3 separate regions of the Homo sapiens genome follow, and all the other regions are linked to region 1. Evidence: fine-mapped expression QTL. A gene starts in region 1. Each other region holds a variant in brackets. All regions are shown on one strand. Distances are from middle to middle.

Region 1 (7,675 bases):
CTTCATGAGTCGGTCCAGGGAACAGTTGGCTCTGTACACTCTGCCAGAGAAGTTCTTGGGGATGACTGAGGGTCTGAACAGGTGAGGGACAGATGAAGGCAGGGCTGGAGGAGGGAACCACATGGCAGTGTGCAGGGTGGCCTGGAGTTCCATCAGGAAGCTGGCACAGAGCCTAGATTAAGGGCAGCAGTGGGAACAGACAAGAGATGGATGTGAGTGATTACCAAGGAAGACTGTCATCAAATATGGTATGTGGAGGTCATCACGGTGTGTCTCTCTCTTCATTATGGAAGCATCCCATGTTCACTGAAGGGATCTTGGAAAATATTTTTAAAACTAGAAAGAAGAAATGTTATCCTACAGTCTCACCATTCAAATACCATCACTTTCCCTACTTTGATGGCATACCTTATAGTCTTTCTTCTCTTCACATGTAGTTTTTCTTATTAGTATGTAAGAAGCAGCATAAGGTAGTATGGAAAGTATGGCTTTTAATGTCAAAAAGACTTCAGATACAATCCTGGCTCTGTCACTTTTTTAAAAGAATCATTTCGACTTTTATTTTGTTTACTTATTTTTGAGACAGGGTCTAGTTCTTTCACCCATGCTGGAGTGCAGTGGCATGATCATAGCTCACTGCCACCTTGACCTCCCTGGCTCAAGCAATCCCCCCACCTCAACCTCCTGAGTAGCTGGTACTACAGGCATGCGCCACTATGCCTGGCTAATTTTTTGTATTTTTTTTTATAGAGACGGGGTCTTGCCATGTTGCCCAGGCTGGTCTTGAACTCCTGGGCTCAAGCAATCCTCCTGCCTCAGCCTCCCATAGTGCTTGGATTACAGACATGAGCCATTGCACCTGGCCTCAACTTTTATTTTAGATTCAGTGGGTACACATGCAGGTTTGTTACATGGGTATAGGGTTTGGGGTACAGATGAGCCTGTCACCCAGGTAGTGAGCATATTACCTAAAAGGTTGTTTTTCAGCCCACGCTCCCCACGCTCCCCTCCCTCCTTCTCTCTTCTGGTAGTCCTCAGTGTCTATTGTTCCATCATTATGTCCATGTGTACTCAATGCTTAGCTCCCATTTATAAGTGAGAATATGTGGTATTTGGTTTTCTGTTCCTGCCTTAATTTGCTTAGGATAATGGCCTCCAGCTGCATTCGTATTGCTGGAAAGGACATGATTTTGTTAATTTTATGGCTGCATAGTATTCCATGGTACGTATGAAGTACATTATCTTTATGCAATCCATCATTGATGGGCATCTAGGTTGATTCCATGTCTTTGCTATTGTGAATAGTGCTGTGATGAACGTACAAGTGCATGTGTCTTTTTGGAAAAACAATATATTTTCCTTTGGGTATATACCCAGTAATAGGATTGCTGAGTTGAATGGTAGTTCTAAGTTTTTGAGAAATCTCCAAGCTGCTTTCCACAGTGGCTGAACTGATTTACATTCCCACCAACAATGTATAAGCGTTCCCTTTTCTCTGCATCCTCACCACCATGTGTTTTTGTTGTTGTTGTTGTTGTCGTTTCAAGTAACATTTATTGAGAACTCTTTGTGTCAAATGCTTTGTCTGCATTAACTCAATTAATCCTCATAAAAAACCTTATGAAGCCCCACTTCCCATTCAAGGAGACTAAGGCAGAGAGATCAAATAACTTGCACAAGGCCACACGAATAGTAAGTGGCAGATGCAAGAGCTAAATCCAGTAGTCTGAGTCTGAAGCTCACAAGTTCAACTTCTCTACAACCTGTCACCACTCTTCGTTCACTACCTGACCTTGATGGAGTCAGTGAACCTTTCTGCAAAGTGGAAGCAATTTTTAGAGTTGTCCTGAGCATTAGCAATCCTATGTCAAGTGCCTGGAGGGAACACAGTGGGCATCTCAACAAATGGTGGGTGCTCACCACTTGAAAGTGAGTTATGGGTTTAAGCAAGTTGAATCTGAGGTGAGGGCAGAACTTCCAGATGAAGTCAGAATTGCAAAGGCCATAAAGCCCAGGGTTTAAGCACTGAAGCCATGGAATTGGCCTGCCTGGGCTCCAATCCCTACTCTGCCGCTTCAATGCTGAATGACCTGACAAGTCAGTTTACCTGTCTGAGCCTGTTTGCTCATTTGTAAAATGGGGCTAAAAATACTACCTCCCTAGGTTTGTTTTGAGTATAGGGTAATATGTGGGCAGTGCTTAGGAACAGAGTTTGGGCATTGTCAGTGCTGAATTCATGTTGGTTTTTATAATGGTGTGTATAATGGATGTAATGATAAATTTATGGTGATGTAATATTACCATAAGGTAATATTTTCCTGTATTAAGATTCTTGAGGTCAGGCACAGTGGCTCACGCCTATAATCCTAGCACTTTGGGAGGCCGAGGTGGGTGGATCACCTGAGGTCAGGAGTTCAAGACCAGCCTGGCCAAAAAGGTGAAACCTCGTTTCTACTAAAAATACAAAAATTAGCTCGGCGTGGTGGTGCCCACCTGTAAGCCCAGCTACTTGGGAGGCTGAGGCAGAATTTCCTGAATCTGGAAGGCAGAGGTTGCAGTGAGCCGAGATCGTGCCATTGCACTCCAGCCTGGGTGACAGAGCAAGACTCCGTCTCAAAAAAAAAAAAAAAAAAATAAATAAATAAATAAATAAAGATTCTTGAATGTGTTAGCCATAAGGGGAAATCAAATCACAACAAAACCCTTTCTTCCCAGTGACTGCACAATCATTTTCTTCATTCCCAGCATACCACCATTGTTGTATATCCACCAGTGTGCCAGGGTCTGTGGATAAACCCTAAACATCCAGAGAAGGGGAGACAGGCCCCAGATTCCCACCCCAACACGCATCATGTGAGCAGCTGGAGGATGTTGCAGTTCAGCAAAATCCAAGGGTTGGCCACAGGATCTGCTAGGCAAAGCTGCTCTGGATGAGAAACTGGGAAGAATGTTCCCATTGGTTTGGGGGTTGTTAAGCCATCAGGAAAAGGTTTGGAATCTGTATTTTAAGAGAGCATGCTATGTGATTCCTTCCTCCAGCCCTGCCTTCATCTGTCTTTCACCTGTTCAGACCCTTGCCGTAGAGAATGGTCTCTTAAGAGTTTTTTACTCAGGAGGAGCAATGAGCTTGGCTTCAAGGAGTCCACTGTTTCGTGAAGGGCATTAACTCAGCTACTTGGTGAACTGGAACCTCCAGGCTTCCAAGGATGACATTTCCCTGGAAGAAAGTAGCCAGCAGCGTCCCCTTTGTGAAAGAGAGGAAGCCTGGGCTCCAGGGAAGGGGGCAACAGTCCAATGAGCCATAGCAGGGAATGGACCGAACTGTACATACAAGATGAGGAGGGGCCTCGAACAACAGGGAAGCCCCGTGGAGCACGCAGGGGAGCCTGGACGCGGGGAATCGCCTCCGTTTCTCACCCTGACAGCAGGGAGGGCTTCCCGGAGCTGACAGTGAGGCAGACATCCCGGATCCCTGTTATCACAGGTGCAGCCACGCAACTTTTGGGTTACCTTCCCGCCACGAAATGGAAATGATTTCCTGAGGGCCGGAAAGATCATTTGCATCGGGCCTCAGGTCTGGGGCTGGGAAAGCAGGCCCCGGCCGGAAAGGAAGACTGGAGGCCGCCGCCCCAGAGGCCGGACCCTCGCGTCCCGGCCGCATCCCCTCCCGGCTGGGTATGCGCTTCGGGCGCGGGGCTCCCTCGCGAGGCTGGACTGGGTGGAGCCCGAGAGCCCCTCCGGGGAGCTGGCTGCCGGGGAGGCACCGGGGCTGCGGGGCCGCGGGGCGGGCCGGGCCTGGAGCTCCGCGCTAGAGGCGGCCGCAGCGCACCGGGCGTGGGCGGGGCCGGCAGCGCAAGGGTGAATGTCGGCCCCGCCCCGACGGCGCTGACTCAGTTTCACCAGAAACCAGGGGGAGAAGGCGGCCGAGCCCCAGCTCTCCGAGCACCGGGTCGGAAGCCGCGACCCGAGCCGCGCAGGAAGCTGGGACCGGAACCTCGGCGGACCCGGCCCCACCCAACTCACCTGCGCAGGTAACCCGGGCCCCCGCGCGCAAGGCCGAGGCGCAGGCGGAGCGGGCTGGAGCATGTCCGGCCCTTTGTTCTGCGCTCGTGCGTGTGTCCGGGTACTTGAGCTCCCTAGCGGTCCGCCTGTCCGTCTGTCTGGCTGCCGGGTCCCTGGAGGGCGCGTGGGAGGGCCGGGCCCGTGCGCCCTCTTCGATCCTGGGGTGCTCCGGTCCCTCCTCCCCGCCACTTCCTCCCGGCCGGCCCGCCTCCTCCAAAGTCTCCCGGGCTGATCAGGTGTGTCTCCTCCTCTGTCCCCTCCCTTCTTCTCAGGTCACCAGCACCCTCGGAACCCAGAGGCCCGCGCTCTGAAGGTGACCCCCCTGGGGAGGAAGGCGATGGCCCCTGCGAGGACGATGGCCCGCGCCCGCCTCGCCCCGGCCGGCATCCCTGCCGTCGCCTTGTGGCTTCTGTGCACGCTCGGCCTCCAGGGCACCCAGGCCGGGCCACCGCCCGCGCCCCCTGGGCTGCCCGCGGGAGCCGACTGCCTGAACAGCTTTACCGCCGGGGTGCCTGGCTTCGTGCTGGACACCAACGCCTCGGTCAGCAACGGAGCTACCTTCCTGGAGTCCCCCACCGTGCGCCGGGGCTGGGACTGCGTGCGCGCCTGCTGCACCACCCAGAACTGCAACTTGGCGCTAGTGGAGCTGCAGCCCGACCGCGGGGAGGACGCCATCGCCGCCTGCTTCCTCATCAACTGCCTCTACGAGCAGAACTTCGTGTGCAAGTTCGCGCCCAGGGAGGGCTTCATCAACTACCTCACGAGGGAAGTGTACCGCTCCTACCGCCAGCTGCGGACCCAGGGCTTTGGAGGTGAGGAGGGTGCCAAGATGGATGGGTTTGGAGAGACTCAAAAAAGGGACTGGTTATGGGGTCCTAGGGGAGACGAACATCAGAGAGGAGTTAAGGAGAGTTCACTTTTTTTTTTCTTTTTCTTTCTTTTTTTTTGCGACGGAGTCTCGCTCTTGTCGCCCAGGCTGGAGTGCAATGGCGCAATCTCTGGTTGCTCACTGCAACCTCCGTCTTCCACGTTCAAGTGATTCTTCTGTCTCAGCCTCCGGAGTAGCTGGAACTACAGGCACCCGCTACCAGACCCGGCTAATTTTTTTTTTTTTTTTTTTTTTTTTTTTTTTGGTACAGACGGGGTTTCACTATGTTGGCCAGGCTGGTCTTGAACTTCTGAACTCAGGTGATCCACCCACCTTGGCCTCCCAAAGTGCTGGGATTATTTCTACCTGAAGCCCTCCTTAGAAGTAGGCAGTACAGCCGAATCAAGCCTGGTGATCAATGGGGTGACAGATGTCACAGCCAGATCGCCTTCACATCGGTAGTAGGCAGTACAAACAGTAAACAAATGAAAGGGGACATGAGTAGGGAGGGCAGGGCCCAGGCTCTGGCTCCTGAACTCAGGATGTTCAGAGGTGATGGGCTGGTGCTCACAGGGAGGCCTTTGGCTCTGGGCTGTGTGTACTGGAGGGGAGAGGAAGTCCCCAGGACTCCTGACCTCTGGCACTGATAGGCTGATTGAAGGAGTGAGCTGTCTGGATGGTCTGGTGACTAGAAAGGCACCTTGGCCAAGCACTGGTCTGGGCACACCGATGCCCTGTCAGGTGAGCCTGGCCATAGTCTCCTCCACTGGCTGGACTTGGGACTGCTTAGCATCTCTCTACCCCCTAGGAATGCATTGGCCTTTTGGTGGTCCAGGAAGACTGCCAGATCCGAGACTAGAAAACAAGCCCAGTCTGCGGTTGATCCAAAGGGAGAGAAGTGATGTTGTAGGCACAGAAGCCTAGAGGCTCTGGGGTGGGGGATGAGGAGGGTTGTGGGGTGAGTCAGCCTGTTGGTATGTATACCTAGTAGGGAAGGGATGTCAGCTGTCCAGGCAGGTGTGTGTGCATGCGCATGAGCCAGACAGGGCTCTCCCTGCTTAGAATCTGGTAGCCAAACCTTGTTTACTTCCATAGATAAAGGCAAAGCGGAGGCCAGGGCTCCTCCTCTTTCTTCCCCGGACTGAACTGTCTGCTGGGATCAGGGCCAGTCCAGAGCCTTGGTTCCCCCTTTCTCTCTACCTGCTGTTCTGGCCAGGTGGGGCTCCAGGGCAGGGGTAGGTCACCTCTCATAACCTCTGTGAGCACTTTACAGCTTACTGATTGCTGTGCCACACATCCTCTCACTCAGGCCTCATCACAACAACTTCCAAAAAGGGTGCTACTAGCAGTCATCCCACTTTTTAGATTAGGAAACTAAGACTCCCATGTTAAAGAATTTGCCCAGGGTAACACTGCCCATAAATGGTAGGCCTGAGATTCACCCCAGGGGAGACCTCCAAAAAAAGTCCTGTGCTGTTTTTCACACAAGACCATCTCTCTGGTAAAAACCTAGCATTCTGACCCAAAATAGCCCAGTGGATAACAGAACCGGGGATTGGGGAGTTTGGGGGCCAGAACTGGGCTGGGGCCACATCTGGGGGTGGTCTCCGTTCTGGAAAGTGGAGAAAGGGCTTTCCTCCGCAGACTTTTCCTGGGCTAGTCTCTCTGCCAGGCTAAGGAGGGTCCTCTTTCCTCCCTATCCTTCCAGTAGCTCTCCTGGGTCTCTGAGGAGAGGCGAGATGGGGATTCCTGTGGATGGGAGGGGGACATATCTGAGGGCCAGTCTGGGCCACCAAGTCCCACTGAACCAGGGCTGCAGCCTGTTCCACAAGGAAGTAGCAGAAAGTGTAGGTGGTGATGACTCTTACTGACCTGAGTTGCTCATGCCCTTCCTGCTCCACAGAGGCCCCATGGGAGTCCCTCTCCAGAGCCAGAGTGTGAAATTCTGGAGTCTGGTCAGGGAGCTTAGCTGGACTATGGCCCCATGGTCTTGAGACCAGCCATCCTCATCTGGAAACCCCCAGGACCTGCCTGTTTGCCACAAGAGAGGGTGGAGTGGGGATTTCCTGGGACATTGAGGGAGGCAGGTAGGGCTTGGACTTAGTATGAGCTCCAGGCCATTCTAGGCCATTCTTAGAGTGCTGCAGTGCTTTGGGAAGAGGAAAAAGCTGTGTGTGTGTCAAGGGGTTTATTCTCACCTGGGTCCAGTTAGAGAGGTTGGAGGTGGGTAATGACAGGGTAGAGCCATTAAGGGCTAGGGTGGATGAGGTGGGTTGGGTGACGTGGGTCACGGGCACTGAGAGCTTCCAAACCTTTGATTCTCCTATTGCATAGATAAATGCTCCCCAGAATGGGTTTGTTTGTTCCTCCTTCTGCCTGTGGCCAGGCCAGGCCAGTACAGATTCCTGCAGCTGGAGGCGGAGCAGCTTGCACTTCCTCTTCTCCCCTTCTCTTCCCCCACCTCTCCTCCTCCCCAGTCCTATGAAGGAGTGGCTTAGGAGGCGGAGTCTGCACTTCCCTGAGGTCCTGAGACCTGGTAACTAACTGGGGGAGGGGCTGGTTTTATTGCCACTCTAGCCCTTTGCTCTCTTGCGGGTGGGAGGAAGGGAGTGGTAAGGCAAGGTACCTGCTCCTTGGTCCTGGGGGCTGGGGCTTGGAGAGGACTGAGTTGTGTTGGGGTGGGATTCAGCCCCTGATTCAGCTCAAAGTCTGATGCATCACTCTGCATGCTACTTCCACTCTGGG
Region 2 (7,675 bases), 41 kb after region 1:
TACTGATAATAATTATATATTATATATAACTTAATATATAATTATATATTATAATATAGTTATATGATACAATAATAATAATACAATAACTTGACTACCCACTTTCTGAGCTTTCAGTGGAAATTGGGCCACCATAGGTTTTTCTCTTCCTTTTTCTTTATTTTATGCATTTTATTTATTTTCTTTGTGGAGACAGAGTCTTGCTGTGTCACCCAGGCTGGAGTACAGTTGTGCGATCAGGGCTCACTGTAGCCTCGACCTCCCAAGCTCAAGTGATCCTCCTGCTTCAGCTTCCTCAGTATGTGGCACCACAGGTGCATGCTACCACACCTGTCTAACTTTTTAATTTTTTTGTAGATACTGGGTCACCCTATGTTTCCCAGGTTGTTCTCAAACTCCTGGGCTCAAGCAATCCTCCTGCCTCAGCCTCCCAAAGTCCTGGGATTATAGGGGTGAGCCACGACACCCAGCAACACAGATTTTTCTCTATTTCCATGTGCTTGTGTCCTTGGAGGGAGTTTGTGGCAAATTTACCCAGCTGGGCTGAGTTTGCCCCATGGTGCTGCTGGTCAACCCTTCAAGTCCATTTCCTCAGTCCCCACACCCTCTAGACCACCCTTGGGCTCAGGCTGGCTCCTGGACTTCTGTCCTGTCTTCCCTGCTCCCTCGCACCCAGACTTGGCCTCCGCTTCTCCCTTCATTTCTCTCCACCTCGCCATCCAGCTGATCCCACCGCTACTGCCCCCTTCCAACCTCTCTTTCCGCTCAGATCTTGCACCCAAGCCCTAGCTTTTTAAATGCCTGCAAGAGTTGCCACCTAAAACCTTTACCTAAAAAACTCCCCTACTAACTTCCTTATTTTCTCTTATTTTTATTTTATTTTTATTTTTGAGAGAGTCTGGCTCTGTCACCCACGCTGGAGTGCAATGGTGCAATCTCAGCTCCCTGCAACCTCTGCCTCCTGAGTTCAATTGATTCTCCTGCCTCAGCCTCCTGAATAACTGGGATTACAGGTGTGCACCACCACTCCTGGTTAATTTTTGTATTTTTAGTAGAGAGGCGGTTTCACCATGTTGGCCAGGCTGGTCTCGACCTCCTGAGCTCAAGTGATCTGCCTGCCTCGGCCTCCCAAAGTGCTGGGATTACAGGCGTGAGCCACCACGCTGGCTCTATTTAATTAATTAATTTATTTATTTATTATTATTATTATTTTGAGACGGAGTCTAGCTCTGTCGCCCAGGCTGGAGTGCAGTGGCACAATCTCGGCTTGCTGCAACCTCCACCTTCGGGTTCAAGAGATTCTCCTGCCTCAGCCTCCCGAGTAGCTGGGATTACAGGTGCCCACCACCACGCCCAGCTACTTTTTGTATTTTTAGTACAGACGGGGTTTCACTGTGTTGGCCAGGCTGGTCTCGAACTCCTGACCTCATGATCTGCCCACCTCGGCCTCCCAAAGTGCTGGGATTACAAGCGTTAGCCACCGCGCCTGGCCATTTATTTATTTATTTTTAGAGATGAGGGGTGTCTCGCTCATCTCTGGACTCAAACTCCTGGCCTCAAGAGATCCTCCTGCCTCAGTATCCTAAGTAGCTGGGATTACAGGCGTGCCCCACTGCATCCAGCACCTCAGTATGTTTTTGAGATTCACTCATGCTGTTGTGTATAAGAGTAGCTTGTTTTTTTGTGCTTTTTAATTTTTATTTTACTTATTCTTTTTTTAGAGATGGGGTCTCTGTTGCCAGGCTGGAGTGCAGTGACATGATCATGACTCCACTGCAGCCTTGAACTCCTGGGCTCAAGAATCCTCCTGCCTCAGCCTCCCAAGTAGCTGGGACTACAGGCACATGCCACCACACCCGGACAGTTCTTTTTTTTTTCTTTGCTGAGTAATATTCCATTATATGGATATACCACAGTTTGTTTATTTTTTTTTTTTTTTTTGAAATGTCGTTTTGCTCTTGTTGCCCAGGCTGGAGTGCAGTGGTGTGATCTTGGCTCACTGCAACCTCCTCCTCCCAGGTTAAAGTGATTCTCCTGCCTCAACCTCCCAAGTAGTTGAGATTACAGGAGCCTGTCACCACGCCCGGCTAATTTTTCTATTTTTGGTAAAGATGGGGTTTCCCCACGTTGGCCACGCTGGTCTGAAACTCCTGAACTCAGGTGATCCTCCCACCTCGGCCTCCCAAAGTGCTTGGATGACGGGTGTGAGCCACCACCACACCCAGCCTGTTTATTCTCTTGATTGACATTTGACTTGTTTCCAGTTGCAGCTATTATGAATAATGCTGCTATAAACATTCATGTACAAATCTTTGTGTGGACATATTATTTTCATTTCTCTTGGATAAATACCCAGATATTGAATTGCTGGGTCATGAGGTAAATATGCATGTTAAGTGGCTGTTAGTAGTTGTACCATTTTATATTCCCACCAGCATTTTATGACACCCCAGTTGCTCCACAACCTCACAACACTTGGTGTTGTTGGTTTTTAATATTTTGGCGCTGGGCACGGTGGCTCACGCGTATAATCCCAGCACTTTGGGAGGCTGAGGTGGGCAGATCACTTGAGGTCAGGAGTTTGAGACCAGCCTGGCCAACATGGTGAAACCCCGTCGCTACCAAAAATACAAAAATTAGTTGGGCAGTGGTGGGTCCCTGTAATCCCCACTACATGGGAGGCTGAGGCAGGAGAATTGCTTGAACCTGGGAGGCAGAGGCTGCAGTGAGCCGAGATCGCGCCACTGCACTCCAGCCTTGGCGACAAGAGCCAGACTCCATTTCAAAAAAAAAAAAAAATTGGCCAGGCGTGGTGGCTCACACCTGTAATCCCAGCACTTTGGGAAGCTGAGGCGGGTGGATCACACGGTCAGGAGTTTGAGGCCAGCCAGACCAAGATGGTGAAAGCACGTCTTTACTAAAAATACAAAAATTAGCTGGGCACGGTGGTGGGTACCTGTAATCCCAGCTACTTGGGAGGCTGAGGCAGGAGAATCACTTGAACCTAGGAGGTGGAGGTTGCAGTGAGCCAAGATCTTGCCACTGCACTCTAGCCTGGGCGACAGAGCAAGACTCCATCTCAAAAAAAAATTTTTTAATTAAAAAAATATTTTGGATTTTGTTGCTGTTGTATTGTTGCTGTTTATTTTATTTTATTTGTTTTTTTGAGTCTCGGCTCACTGCAACCTCTGCATCCAGTGTTCAAGCAATTCTCCTACCTCAGCCTCCTGAGTAGCTGGGAGTACAGACACGCTCTACCATGCCTGGGTAATTTTAGTATTTTTAGTAGAGATGGGGGTTTCACCAAGTTGGTCAGGCTGGTTTCGAGC[TTCTGACCTCGTGA/T]TCCTCCCGCCTCAGCTTCCCAAAGTGCTTGGATTACAGGCGTGAGCCACCATGCCTGGCCTGCTGTTGCTTTTAATACTAAATCTCATCATTTTTTAAAAGCTTGAAAACAGGCTGTGCACAGTGGCTCATGCCTATAATTCCAACACTTTGGGAGGCCAAGACAGGGGGATTGCTTGAACCCAGGAGTTCTAGACTAGCCTGGGCAATATAGCAAGACTCCGTTTCAGTTATTTTTTTAAGTTTGAAAACAGTTTCTGCAATAGGTCATACGGATGAATATATAGTTAACTCATATATACGCGTGTGATATAGTGTGTGCATGTGATGCACGTTAACATGCCAAGTCATGCATTCATTCAGCAGGCACTTCCCAAGTACTTACAGTGTGTCAGGCCTTATGATCTAAAAGGTTGTCAGGGCTGGAAGGATGAGAGGTGGCTATTAGATTTCACATTAATCAGATGAGGTTCCCTGGCTTCAACATCTTTTGAAATATCTTCTAGACTACTAAAGGATAGGTAAGAAGCATAGCACCCAGCTCTGAGGCAGTGCTCTGAAAACCATTATTTCCTGAGCACTGACCTCAAAGATCTCTAAATGGACCACAACAAGGGTTTGGCATTTTTTTTTTTTTGAGACGGAGTTTTGCTCTTGTTGCCCAGGCTGGAATGCAATGGCGTAACCTTGGCTCACTGCAACCTCCACCTCCTGAGTAGCTGGGATTATAGGTGCGCACCACCACGCCTGGCTAATTTTTGTATTTTTAGTAGAGACAGAGTTTCACCATGTTGGTCAGGCTGGTCTCGAACTCCTGACCTCAGGTGATCCACCCGCCTCGGCTTCCCAAAGTGCTGAGATTACAGGCGTGAGCCACTGCACCTGGCTGGGTTTAGCTTTTAGAGAATCACAGAATTATTAGAGATGGTTAAGTTCCCCCTTCACAATTTACAGGTGAGAAAAGAAAAGCGTAGCTCAGAGGGGGTAGGGGACTTGTCCAAAGGTGTTGGCTAAGTTGGGTTTCATATCTGAAAACAAGAGGGGCTTTAAGAGCTTGGCCAAGGAGGCCACTGGAGAAACAGCATGGAGAGTGGTAGTGGGGAGAGCAAAAACCAGCGGGGTGAGGGTGGGGCTCCTGGCAGATGTGGTGCTGGCACAAAGCATTGACTCCCCATTTCCCATGCTCCCTAAAGAAGCTTATAAACTATGCTGACAACTCAAACATTTCATCTTTTTTTTTTCTTTTTTTGAGATGGGGTTTCGCCCTGTCACCCAGGCTGGAGTGCAGTGGTGTGATCTCAGCTCACTGCAGCCTTGACCTCCTTGGCTCAAGCCATCCTCCCACCTCAGCCTCCTGAGTAGCTGAGACCACAGGCATGCGCCACCACGCCTGGCTCATTTTTGTATTTTTTTTTTTGGTAGAGATGGGGTCTTACTATGTTGCCCAGGCTGGTCTGGAACCCCTGTTTTTGTTTTTGTTTTTTTTTTAGACAGAGTCTCGCTCTTGTCGCCCAGGCTGGAGTGCAATGGTGCAATCTCGGCTCACTGCAACCTCTGCCTCCCAGCTTCAAGCGATTCTCCTGCCTCAGCCTCCTGAATAGTTGGGAATACAGGTGCCTGCCACCAAGCCCAGATAATTTTTATATTTTTAGTAGAGACGGGGTTTCACCGTGTTGGCCAGGCTGGTCTCAAACTCCTGACCTCAGGTGATCCACCCGCCTTGGCCTCCCAAGATGCTGGGATTACAGGTGTGAGCCACCGCGCCCGGCCACTCCTGGTCTTAAGTGATCCTCCTGCCTCAGCCTCCCAAAGCCCTGGGGCTCCAGGTCTGAGCCTGTGATGGAGTGGTGTGTGATAAGCTTCTTCTCCTAAAGCAGGGGCCGGGCAGTAGGAATGCAAGGGGACCTGCCACTTGTTTACAGGTACCTAGACCTGCTGGTCACCTTTAGGAAAGAGCCCAATGCAGTTGGGGATCTGGAAACTGATTCCCTTAAAATAATTTCTACCCTCTGTCACTTGGGAGACCCTTTCATACCCCTAAGGATGTGTGAACCCCTGTTCGAGGACCCCTGGTTTGAGGATGCTCTCATTTCTGACCTAGACAAGTGAGGCCACTGGGCCTGCAGTCCTGAGGGCAGTGGGGGGATGAAAGAGAGCAGCTTGGCTAGAAGCTCCCTCAGTGAGAGAGGGATGACAGTAGCAGGGAGGGGATACTTTTTGAGAATTGGGGCGATTCAGGTAGGTTTAGACACATGCAGAAGGGAGCCAAACATGAAGGAGAAGAAAGAAGGGCGTGGAGAGCTGTTCTGAACAGGCCAAGGGTCTTCTTTCCTCAGCATATTTTAATGGAAGCCAACAACTGTGCTAGGCCCTGTGCCAGGAAGTGGTGTGCTAGAGACACTTTTCCCTGTCTGGTGAGAATTAGAGAAGACAGGGGCCTGGTCCTGGCAAGGGGAGGAGTATCAGGGAAGCCATTCTAGAGGGAGCAAATCCTCAACACCAGACACTCTAATGTCCAAATGGGTGTGGTGCATTTTGGAAACATCCTTAGATCAGCGTGACTGGGGCTCTGAGCAATGAAAACAGATGGAATTTAACTGGGGATGGGGCAAAGGACTGCTAGGTTTTCTTTCTTAGTAAGTCTTTTTTTTTTTTTTTTTTTTTTTTGAGACAGCAGGCTCACTCTGTCACATAGGCTGGAGTGCAGTGGCACAATCTCAGCTCACTGCAACCTCTGCTTAGCGATTCTTCAGGCTCAGCCTCCCGAGTAGCTGGGACTACAGGTGTGCACCACCATGTCTGGCCAGAATGCCAGAATTCCAAAGGATTTATGCAGATACTTCACCCTCAAGGAAGCAAAAACTCCCACCCCTTAAGTGCAGGGTGTGTAGGTGTGTAGTGACTTCCTTCCAAACAGTACAGCATGGAAAGGAGGGAAAAGAGTAACTCTGTAGTGGAGAATCCTGACAAGCACTATCTTGGTCAGGTGATCAGTCATGATGATAAATCATGTTGATAGTGTGTATCCTCGATATAATAGAGAGGTGTTGATAATGGTTCTTTATCTCCCCAAACCATAAATAGCCCTAGTCTAAACATGAAAAAAAATTAAATGAATTCCAACAGAGAGCATTCAACAAAATACTTGCCTAGTACTCAAAATTATCAAGGTAATCAAAAACAAGGAATATCTGAAAAACTTAAAAACTGCCAGTCAAGAGCAGTCCAAGGAGACATGACGACTGTTTTTCCCTATACATAACCTGTGATAAAATTTAATTTATAAATTAGGCCCACTGTGAGATTAACAACAATAATAATATAGGACAGTTATAACAACAGACTGTAATAAAAGCTATGTAGGCCAGATGAGGTGGCTCATGCCTGTAATCCCAGCACTTTGGGAGGCCAAGGCAGGCAGATCACCTGAGGTCGGGAGTTCGAGACCAGCCTGACCAACATGGAGAAACCCTGTCTCTACTTTTAAAAATACAAAATTAGCTGGGCATGGTGGCACATGCCTGTAATCCCAGTTACTCGGGAGGCTGAGGCAGAAGAATCACTTGAACCCGGGAGGCGGAGGTTGTGGTGAGCCGAGATAGCGCCATTGCACTCCAGCCTGGGCAACAAGAGTGAAACTCCGTCTCAAAAAAAAAAAAAACAAACAAGTTATGTGAGGCTGGGTGCGGTGGCTCACACCTATAATCCCAACACTTTGGGAGGCTGAGGTGGGCAGATCACCTGAGGTCATGAGTTGGAGACCAGCCTGGCCAACATGGTGAGACCCCGTCTCTACTAAAAATACTAAAATTAGCCAGGCATGGTGGTGGGTGCCTGTAGTCCCAGCTACTCGGGAGGCAGAGGCAGGAGAATTGCTTGAACCCAGGAAGTGGAGGTTGCAGTGAGCCGAGATTGCACCATAGCACTCTAGCCTGGGCAACAGATCAAGACTCCATCTCAAAAATAAATAAATAAATAAAAGTTAGGTGAATGTGTTCTCACTCTCTCAAAATATATTATTCTATTATCCACACCTATTTCAGACTGCTATTGACTGCAGGCAACTGAAAGCCCAGAAAGCAAAACTACAGATAAGGGGGAACTGCTGTACTTCAAATGGACACAGGCATCAATGAAAAAGCCTCCGGCAGGGCACAGTGGCTGATGCCCATAATCCCAGCACTTTGGGAGGCCGAGGCGGGCAGATCACAAGGTCAGGAGATCGAGACCATCCTGGCCAACATGGTGAAACCCGTCTCTACTAAAAATACAAAAATTAGCTGGGCGTGGTGGTGCGCCCTTGTAGTCCCAGCTACTCAGGAGGCTCAGGCAG
Region 3 (7,675 bases), 470 kb before region 1:
TCCCATCACAGCAGCTTGTCCTGGAAGGGCCGAGGGGGGCCAGGGGATGGCAGCCCTGTGGTGCTGCCCAATAGCCAGCCAGACCTGCCAGATGTTTGGCTGCGCAGGCCCAGCACTCACACGTCAGGCTATAGCAGCTGAGGGGGACCCGGGGAGGCTGGACAGGGCGCGGAACCCTGTCATGGATGACAAGGCAAGGGCAGCAATAGGCTGGAGCCCGAAGGTATTTCTCCAGATCCACAGGGAGAGGTCTCACCCTCCAGCTGTGGATGTTAAACCCTGCCAGATGTCCCAGCCTTGATCTGTCTGCTCCTACTCCTCACATCTGGAGGATTCCAGCAGGAGGGGTTTTGGAGGGGACCTGCTTGCGACCTGCTGAGGGCTTGTCTGCTCCCACAGCACCATCTAAGACCCCTCCTCTAGAAGTGGGGAAGGCCAGATGTGTAGCTTCGGGTATCAGAGGAGGCTGACCTGGCCCCCATCCCAAGTTACAAGAACTTCAGTGAGACTAAGGGACCCCCATCCTAGGGATCTTGTCAGGGTTCCTTACTGACCAGAGGAGCCCGCAGCAATCTCCACAGCCTCCTGGGTCTCACCCCTTTCATGGGCTCTTCATCAGGACACTTCCCTCTCTTTTGGGAGCTTCTCTGGGCAGAATTGGGCTGGGACCTCTCTCCCCAACTGCCCTGCTCTCCTCATACTCACCGGTTTGACCAGAAATTCTCCAAATCCAGCCATAGATGGCTGCTGGGTGTGCAGCAGGAGAAGGAGGATGGTCAGCCTTGGAGCATCTCTCAATTACGGGACAGTCCCTCTTTGGAAGCAGGCTCCTGTGCTTTCCTGTGTTAATAAACAGTAATAATCCTTTCCATCTCTGCACATTTTAGTCTCCTTGGAATCTATCTCACTACTTCACTACAGGGTAGCCTGACATTGGTCAGGTTCTTTTGACACCCAATTTATAGGTAAAGACATTGAGACTAAGTAAGATGAACTGACCTCAGGGTCACTTAGCCACTAAATGGCAGAGCGGTTTCATTCCACCACTACAACCTCCAGTTTCCCTTTGGCTACCTGCCTTCTTTCACCGCTAGCACCCTCCTCCAATCTGCTTTCTCTGGTGTCTCTGACTGAATCCAGCCACCCTCTTTGGGCCTCCACTTCCTGAGAGAGCTGTATTCCAAAAAAACCCAGGAGTTCCTCTCCATCTCCCCCGTGCCTCCCTCTGGAATCTGGCTGAGATGTCTGCTGGCCCTGGGGCGTCCTAGCTGACCTGATTCCCAGGCTTCAGGACCGTGCCTCTTCTACAGCCACAGTGTATAAGAGGCCCCACCAGAAGAGGTACTGAGGGGCAGAAGAGGTGAAGCCAAATCCAATCAAGGCAGGAACTCAGACCTGCCCTTTGGGAAGTGTATGAGTCTGAAGCTGCTTCCCAGGTTAGGGTCCCCAGCTTTTTAAGGACAAGTCTCTCTGTGGAGCGTTAAGCAGACCAAAGGCTGGTTCCTCCTTCCCAAACTTCCTGGTAGGGAAGTTTTATCCCATGTGAGAGCTCATGACACCAGGTGGCATCAACATGTTTATTGAACACCTACTTTGCATATGGTATTACAAGGGGACAGAGGTGTGGAAGAAAAATTGAACACCACCCTCAAAGAGCTCACCTTCTAGCTGGGGAGACAGCTTATGCACACATGCAGGCATCGGATGGCTCACGGACGGCACCATATGCCTGCCATCATCATTATTGTTGGAGCTCAAGTACCCAGGACTGGGTAACAAGAAAGGCTTTCTGGAGGAGGAAAAACTTGAGCTGGGCTTCAGAAGACCAAGCGTCTCAGACTGGAAGGGGCCTTGGCGATCGTTTATTCCAGCAGTTTTCAAATTTTGTAGCCTCAGGACTCTTTCTTCAAAGAAGCTCTGTGTGGAAAAACAATATATAAAACAGGTAAAAGGCAGCTACTCTGGTGGGCGCTGGGTGTTGGGGGTGGAGTCAGCTTAGCCTGTCTTTCCACTGCAGCCTCTCCGGGTATCTGGGGAACCCCTCCGGCTCCTGGCAGCTTCACAGAATGTAATATGAAAGCTACTGATCCAGGCTATTTTACAGAGGAGTATCAGGAAAGGGAAGGGATTGTTCTAGGGCCAAATAGTCTGTGGCAGAGCTGGAGGCAAATCAGATGATGTTTTTGTTTTATTTAGTTTTTTATTATTGAGACCTACTTCCTACTCCAAGTAGCCCATGAGAAGTGGAGCAGAAACCGAAAAGAGACATGGGAGTTGTGGAAGAGACAGAAGGCAATAGGCAGGTACGGCAGGATACCTTGGCTCCTTTGCAAGATAAGTAAATCAAGATGAGTAACTCCTGACACCAGGAAGGGGAAGCTGGAACCTAATTTGAACCTGTCCCCAGGGGGTCTGCTGGGACCTCTCTCTTCATGTCCAGGTAGCATTCGGCCTCTCTGACCTAGAGCTGCTCATCAGCCCTGGTTTCTCTGATAATGGTGTCCCTCTGTCATCATGCAGCCAGGCTGAGAGAGCCCTGGTATCCTCAGGGACAATGAGCCACAGGGAGGTTAAGGGAACTCTTCCTCCCAAGCATGAGCAGAAGACACTTTGCCTGAACATAACCACTGAAATGTTAGAATGCAGAGGGGTGGATGGGTGGGCATGAGGGATCTGAGCACACCCGAGGGCCCTACCTGGGGATTTCCAGGTCATATTCTTGCAGGCTGTGGCCACACAACACTTCAGGAAGGTGAATGAGCCATAGCAGCTGATGCATTGATTAGATTTGTTCTTTATGTTGCCAGGCCCAGAAGAACCCAGCAGTAATCTAAAACATTACCTTATACCTAGAATGGCCCAAACCAACAGCAGGCAATCCACATCAGCAGGAAATCCAGCCTGCCTCTCTAGCCCTGACTTTGGAATGTGGAACTTAAAGCACTTCCTATTTCCTTTGAGTTGCAGCAGATCCTTTGCTTTATTATTATTAGGGGCACTTACAATGAGTGTATGGCCCTGGAGACATGGCTTACAAGCACGCTGTGAGGCGTACAAAAATGAGTCAAAGCACTTATGCTTGCCCTGCAAAATTCAAGAAATGATTTCTCCCCACTCAGACACTCTAATAGAACTACATTAACATTTGGAACTTGAGGTCATTTCCCCTATTTGTGCCACTGATCCTTGAACTCACATTCTGAGTACGAGTATGTATCCTGTATGCTATTAAAATATAACTTGAGGCCGGACATGATGGCTCATGCCTGTAATCCCAGCACTTTGGGAGGCTGAGGCAGGTGGATCACTAGACGTTAGGAGTTTGAGACCAGCCTGGCCAACATGGTGAAACCCCGCCTCTACTAAAAATACAAAAATTAGTTGGGCGTGGTGGGGGATGCCTGTAGTCCTAGCTACCCAGGAGGCTGAGGCAGGAAAATCATTTGAACCCGGGATGCAGAGGTTGAAGTGAGCCGAGATCGTGCCACTGCACTCCAGCCTGGATGACAGAGCAAGACACCGTCTCAAAAAATAAATAAATAAATAAGTCGGGCACGGTG[G/A]CTCACGCCTGTAATCCCAGCACTTTGGGAGGCCAAGGCAGGTGGATCATGAGGTCAGGAGATCGAAACCATCCTGGCTAACATGGTGAAACCCCGTCTCTACTAAAAATACAAAAATTAGCCGGGTGTGGTGGCGGGCGCCTGTAGTCCCAGCTACTCGGGAGGCTGAGGCAGGAGAATGATGTGAACCCAGGAGGCAGAGCTTGCAGTAAGCCGAGATTGCGCCACTGCACTCCAGCCTGGGCAACAGAGCGAGACTCCATCTTAAAAAAAAAAAATATATATATATATATATGTAAACTTGATATAGTCTGTTACCATGGGAAAACCATCCTTCCATGGCTGTGGTGATTTGGGGACTTTTAGAGTGACAGTGTTAGACAGACTGATTTTATTGGCTGAATCTTAGATTTTACTGATATATAGCATATCCCATACCATGATATGCGGGCAATATTCCAGCTTGAGACAATTTTTTTTTTTTTTTTTTGAGACAGAGTCTTGCTCTGTCGCCCAGGCTGGAGTGCAGTGGCACAATTTCGGCTCACTGCACTAATTTTTTGTATTTTTAGTAGAGACAGTAGAGTATTTTTAGTGTTAGCCAGGATGGTCTCGATCTCCTGACCTCATGATCCGCCTGCCTCGGCCTCCCAGAGTGCTGGGATTACAGGCATGAGCCACCGCGCCTGGCCGAGACAATTTTTAAAAAGACATTTCTCAAGAGAGTTATAAGCCAAAATTTCCCTAGCCCCCTCCAACTCATTCTGTCCTTCTCCCAGTGCATGTCAGGACAGGGAAGAAGGCTTTAAATCAGATTTTAAGAAAGAGGATACATTGGTTTACAACCTTTGCCTATCGTCCAGAGAGTTTCTGATCTTTTCTTTTTTTTTGAGACGGAGTCTTGCTCTGTCGCCCAGGCTGGAGTGTAGTGGCACGATCTTGGCTCACTGCAAGCTCTGCCTCCCAGGTTCACGCCATTCTCCTGCCCCAGCCTCCCGAGCAGTTGGGACTACAGGCACCTGCCACCACGCCTGGCAAATTTTTTGTATTTTTAGTAAAGACGGGGTTTCATTGTGTTAGCCAGGATGGTTTCGATCTCCTGACCTTGTGATCCGCCCACCTCGGCCTCCCAGAGTGCTGGGATTACAGGTGTGAGCCACTACACCCGGCCCTGATCTTTTCTTTGACGGTGGCAGTATCTCATTTTTTGATAATACACATGGGTAATGGCAAGCTCTTGGGACCCCATGCCAAGCATCAAGATCCCATTTACCTGGTGATAGGAAAGACAGACATTCCTCACCCTTTCTACCCACACCCTTGTTCACAGGGATGACTGTAACTAAGGTCTGCAGGTATTTATGCTTAGGAGAAGAAATCGTAGTTCAATTCACCAGGAATATGAGAAACAAAAGAAAGCCACTATGTGCTATGTAAATGTCTGGCCATCCAAAGCCACCTTATGCAGAGGAACACTGGAAGGGCCTTGATAAATTTCTCATAATTATTATCGGGCCTCTTTGTGATTACTCACATTTTTCTCAATATAGGGGAAAGATCAGCATTTTACCAAATCCACAACCATCAAACAAACAAGAGCTTTAATATTGCTAAAGAAAATCACACAGCTGAGCAGATTGATGTAGATTTGAATTCATGACCACCTATCTTAACTGGACCCTCAGCTCTGCCTAGCTAGTATTCATTCTAGCTACTAGTTTTGATTATTTGTATTGACTCTTTTATATTTTCTCCACCTTCCTCAAATATCTCACCTTCCCCCACCCCTCAGTGGACAAAAAAAAAAAAAAAATTCTTCATGAAGAAAACTGAAGCCTTCAAATAGAAATTTCCTCACCTTCAAGGCACCAAAGCCACAACTTACCTACCCCCGCTCCTGCCTGCTCCTCTCCCCATCCCTTCTGCTACAACGAAGGAAGCAGTAATGGCTCCATCAATGGCTTCTCACACTTGGTGTCAGAGGCCTTCACACGAGGGTTTGCACTCCCCTACAAGGACATGAAGACTTTCTAGAAGGTAGGTGGACACAGATAGTTTTAAAGTAATCAGTTTCCAGAGCCGCCTTCTCCATATGTTCCCCTCCTTATATTGGTGGGCCTAAGAAGCCACAGGCCTGACAGCTGTCCTTCCCAACTTCCACTTTCCCAGTTGCCTCCCCTCCCTCATTCTGAATCCTACTCTGGCTCCTTGCTCTGCGCTGTAAAAAACAAATAAAAGGGCCACTTGAGAATGCTCTGCTTGAGGAAGTCCTTGAAAGAGCAAAGCCTGGAGAGCTTCTTTGAGAAAGTTCACAGGGGCAGCCCTGTGGCTCAGTTCTGTGCCTTCTTCATTTAAGAATTCAAATTCATTGACATGTTATATTGTAAAATATATAAATATATATTAAAAAGGAAAAAATAATAAAAATTTTTAAAAATAATTCAACTTCAGGTGAGACACAGTGGCTCATGCCTATAATCCCAGTGTTTTGAAAGGCTGAAGTGGGAGGATGGCTTGAGGCCAGGAGTTTGAGACCAGCTTGGGCAACATAGCAAGATCCCGTATCTACAAAAAATAATTTTAAAAATTAGCTGGGCATGGGCCGGGCGCGGTGGCTCACGCCTGTAATCCCAGCACTCTGGGAGGCCGAGGCAGGTAGATCATCTGAGGTCAGGAGTTCAACACCAGCCTGGCCAACATGGCAAAACCCTGTCTCTACTAAAAATACAAAAATTAGCCGGGCGTGGTGGAGCATGCCTGTAGTCCCAGCTACTCAGGAGGCTGAGGAAGGACAATCGCTTGAACCCTGGAGGCAGAGGTTGCAGTGAGCCAAGATCATGCCATTGCACTCCAGCCTGGGTGACAGAGCGAGACTACATCTCAAAATAAATAAATAAATAATAAAATAAAAATAAAAATTAGCTGGGCATGGTGATATGCGCCTGTAGACCCAGCTACTCCAGAGGCTGAAGCAAGAGGATCACTTGAACTCTGGAGTTCGAGGTTACAGTGAGCCATAATCACATTATGGCACTCCAGCCTGGCAACAGAGCGAGACCTTAACTCTAAAAAAAGAAATAAAGAAGAATTTAAACTGAAAGTGAGATGGTTGACACAGGATACATATTAACCACATTGATTTGAATGGAAAAATAAAATCAGACTTTTTCTGTTAGAAGGTCAGAATTGGCTCACAGGTTTGACAGAGAGGATAGTCTTTGCAAGTAGGATGTATGGTGGACATTTTCCCTAAAATGGAATAACTTTAATCTGCAGCTCCACAGTTTGAACAAAAACAGACTGAAGGCTGGGCGTGGTGGCTCATGCCTGTAATCCCAACACTTTGGGAGGCCTAGGCGGGCAGATCACGAGGTCAGGAGATCGAGACCATCCTGGCTAACATGGTGAAACCTCATCTCTACTAAAAATACAAAAAAATAGCTGGGCGTGGTGGCGGGCACCTGTAGTCCCAGCTACTCAGGAGGCTGAGGCAGGCGAATGGCGTGAACCCGGGAGGCGGAGCTTGCAGTGAGCCGAGATTGCGCCACTGCACTCCATCCTGGGCAACAGAGTCTCAAAAAAAAAAAAAAAAATTTTTGACTGAAAGTACAGATACAACTTCCCTTTCCAGCCAAGATGGAGGAGCAGGGGCCAAGTTTATCCTCCTGCCTGAAACAACCAACCAAACAGTAAATACATGAAATAATGAGTTTCAAGACACTGGACATGAGGTAACAAAAGACAGTGATCTCTCAGAGGCAAGAAACAAACAAGGAGAACCCCTCGGTTGCCCAGCTTACCGCTTGAGAGGATGTATTTCACGGAGGGAGAACCCAGGCAAAGCAAGTGACTCTGAGGTGAGGGGATAGCTGGGAGTGTGGAGCAGCCAAGCTGGCTAGAGTGCTCAGGACAGGGTACTGGAGAGGAGAAAGGTGGATATATAGAGAATTCTGGGGATCTGCAAAGGGCCCCCCTTGAGTGTTCCACAGAGCATGATTCATCATATAAGTGTAAGGAAACCACTTGAGACAAAGGAAAGGACCACCCAAAACAATGGGCCGGAACAGTAGCCAGAAGTCACACACAGCCTGGACCACGCCTGTCCCCATCAGCCA

The links. PIP is the estimated chance that this variant, and not a neighbour inherited with it, causes the effect.
Region 2: its variant is the best candidate, but not a certain one, in a credible set for the expression of SPINT1 in whole blood (TOPMed, PIP 0.52).
Region 3: its variant is the best candidate, but not a certain one, in a credible set for the expression of SPINT1 in monocytes (Fairfax 2014, PIP 0.58).

What each region holds. Positions count from the first base shown.
Region 1 is chr15:40,840,156-40,847,830 of GRCh38, forward strand. It overlaps SPINT1 (serine peptidase inhibitor, Kunitz type 1), which reads left to right and starts at 3,893. Exons shown (of 11, transcript NM_003710.4): 1 at 3,893-4,031; 2 at 4,335-4,874. The coding sequence starts at 4,400. SPINT1-AS1 (SPINT1 antisense RNA 1) reads right to left here and starts at 4,369. Exons shown (of 2, transcript NR_146468.1): 1 at 4,024-4,369. RefSeq lists silencers at 3,331-3,513, 3,675-3,904, 3,985-4,044, 4,335-4,574 and an enhancer at 3,466-4,037.
Region 2 is chr15:40,880,924-40,888,598 of GRCh38, forward strand. No RefSeq gene overlaps it. Among named protein-coding and RNA genes, the nearest start is that of VPS18, 9.7 kb to the right of the region's middle. RefSeq lists an enhancer at 4,024-4,073. The variant TTCTGACCTCGTGA/T (reference allele first, on the strand shown) is at 3,330.
Region 3 is chr15:40,370,178-40,377,852 of GRCh38, forward strand. DISP2 (dispatched RND transporter family member 2) reads left to right here. Exons shown (of 8, transcript NM_033510.3): 8 at 1-7,675. The coding sequence ends at 141. It overlaps LOC124903472 (a long non-coding RNA gene), which reads right to left and starts at 7,471. Exons shown (of 4, transcript XR_007064597.1): 1 at 5,446-7,471; 2 at 1,662-1,917; 3 at 706-840. The variant G/A (reference allele first, on the strand shown) is at 3,561.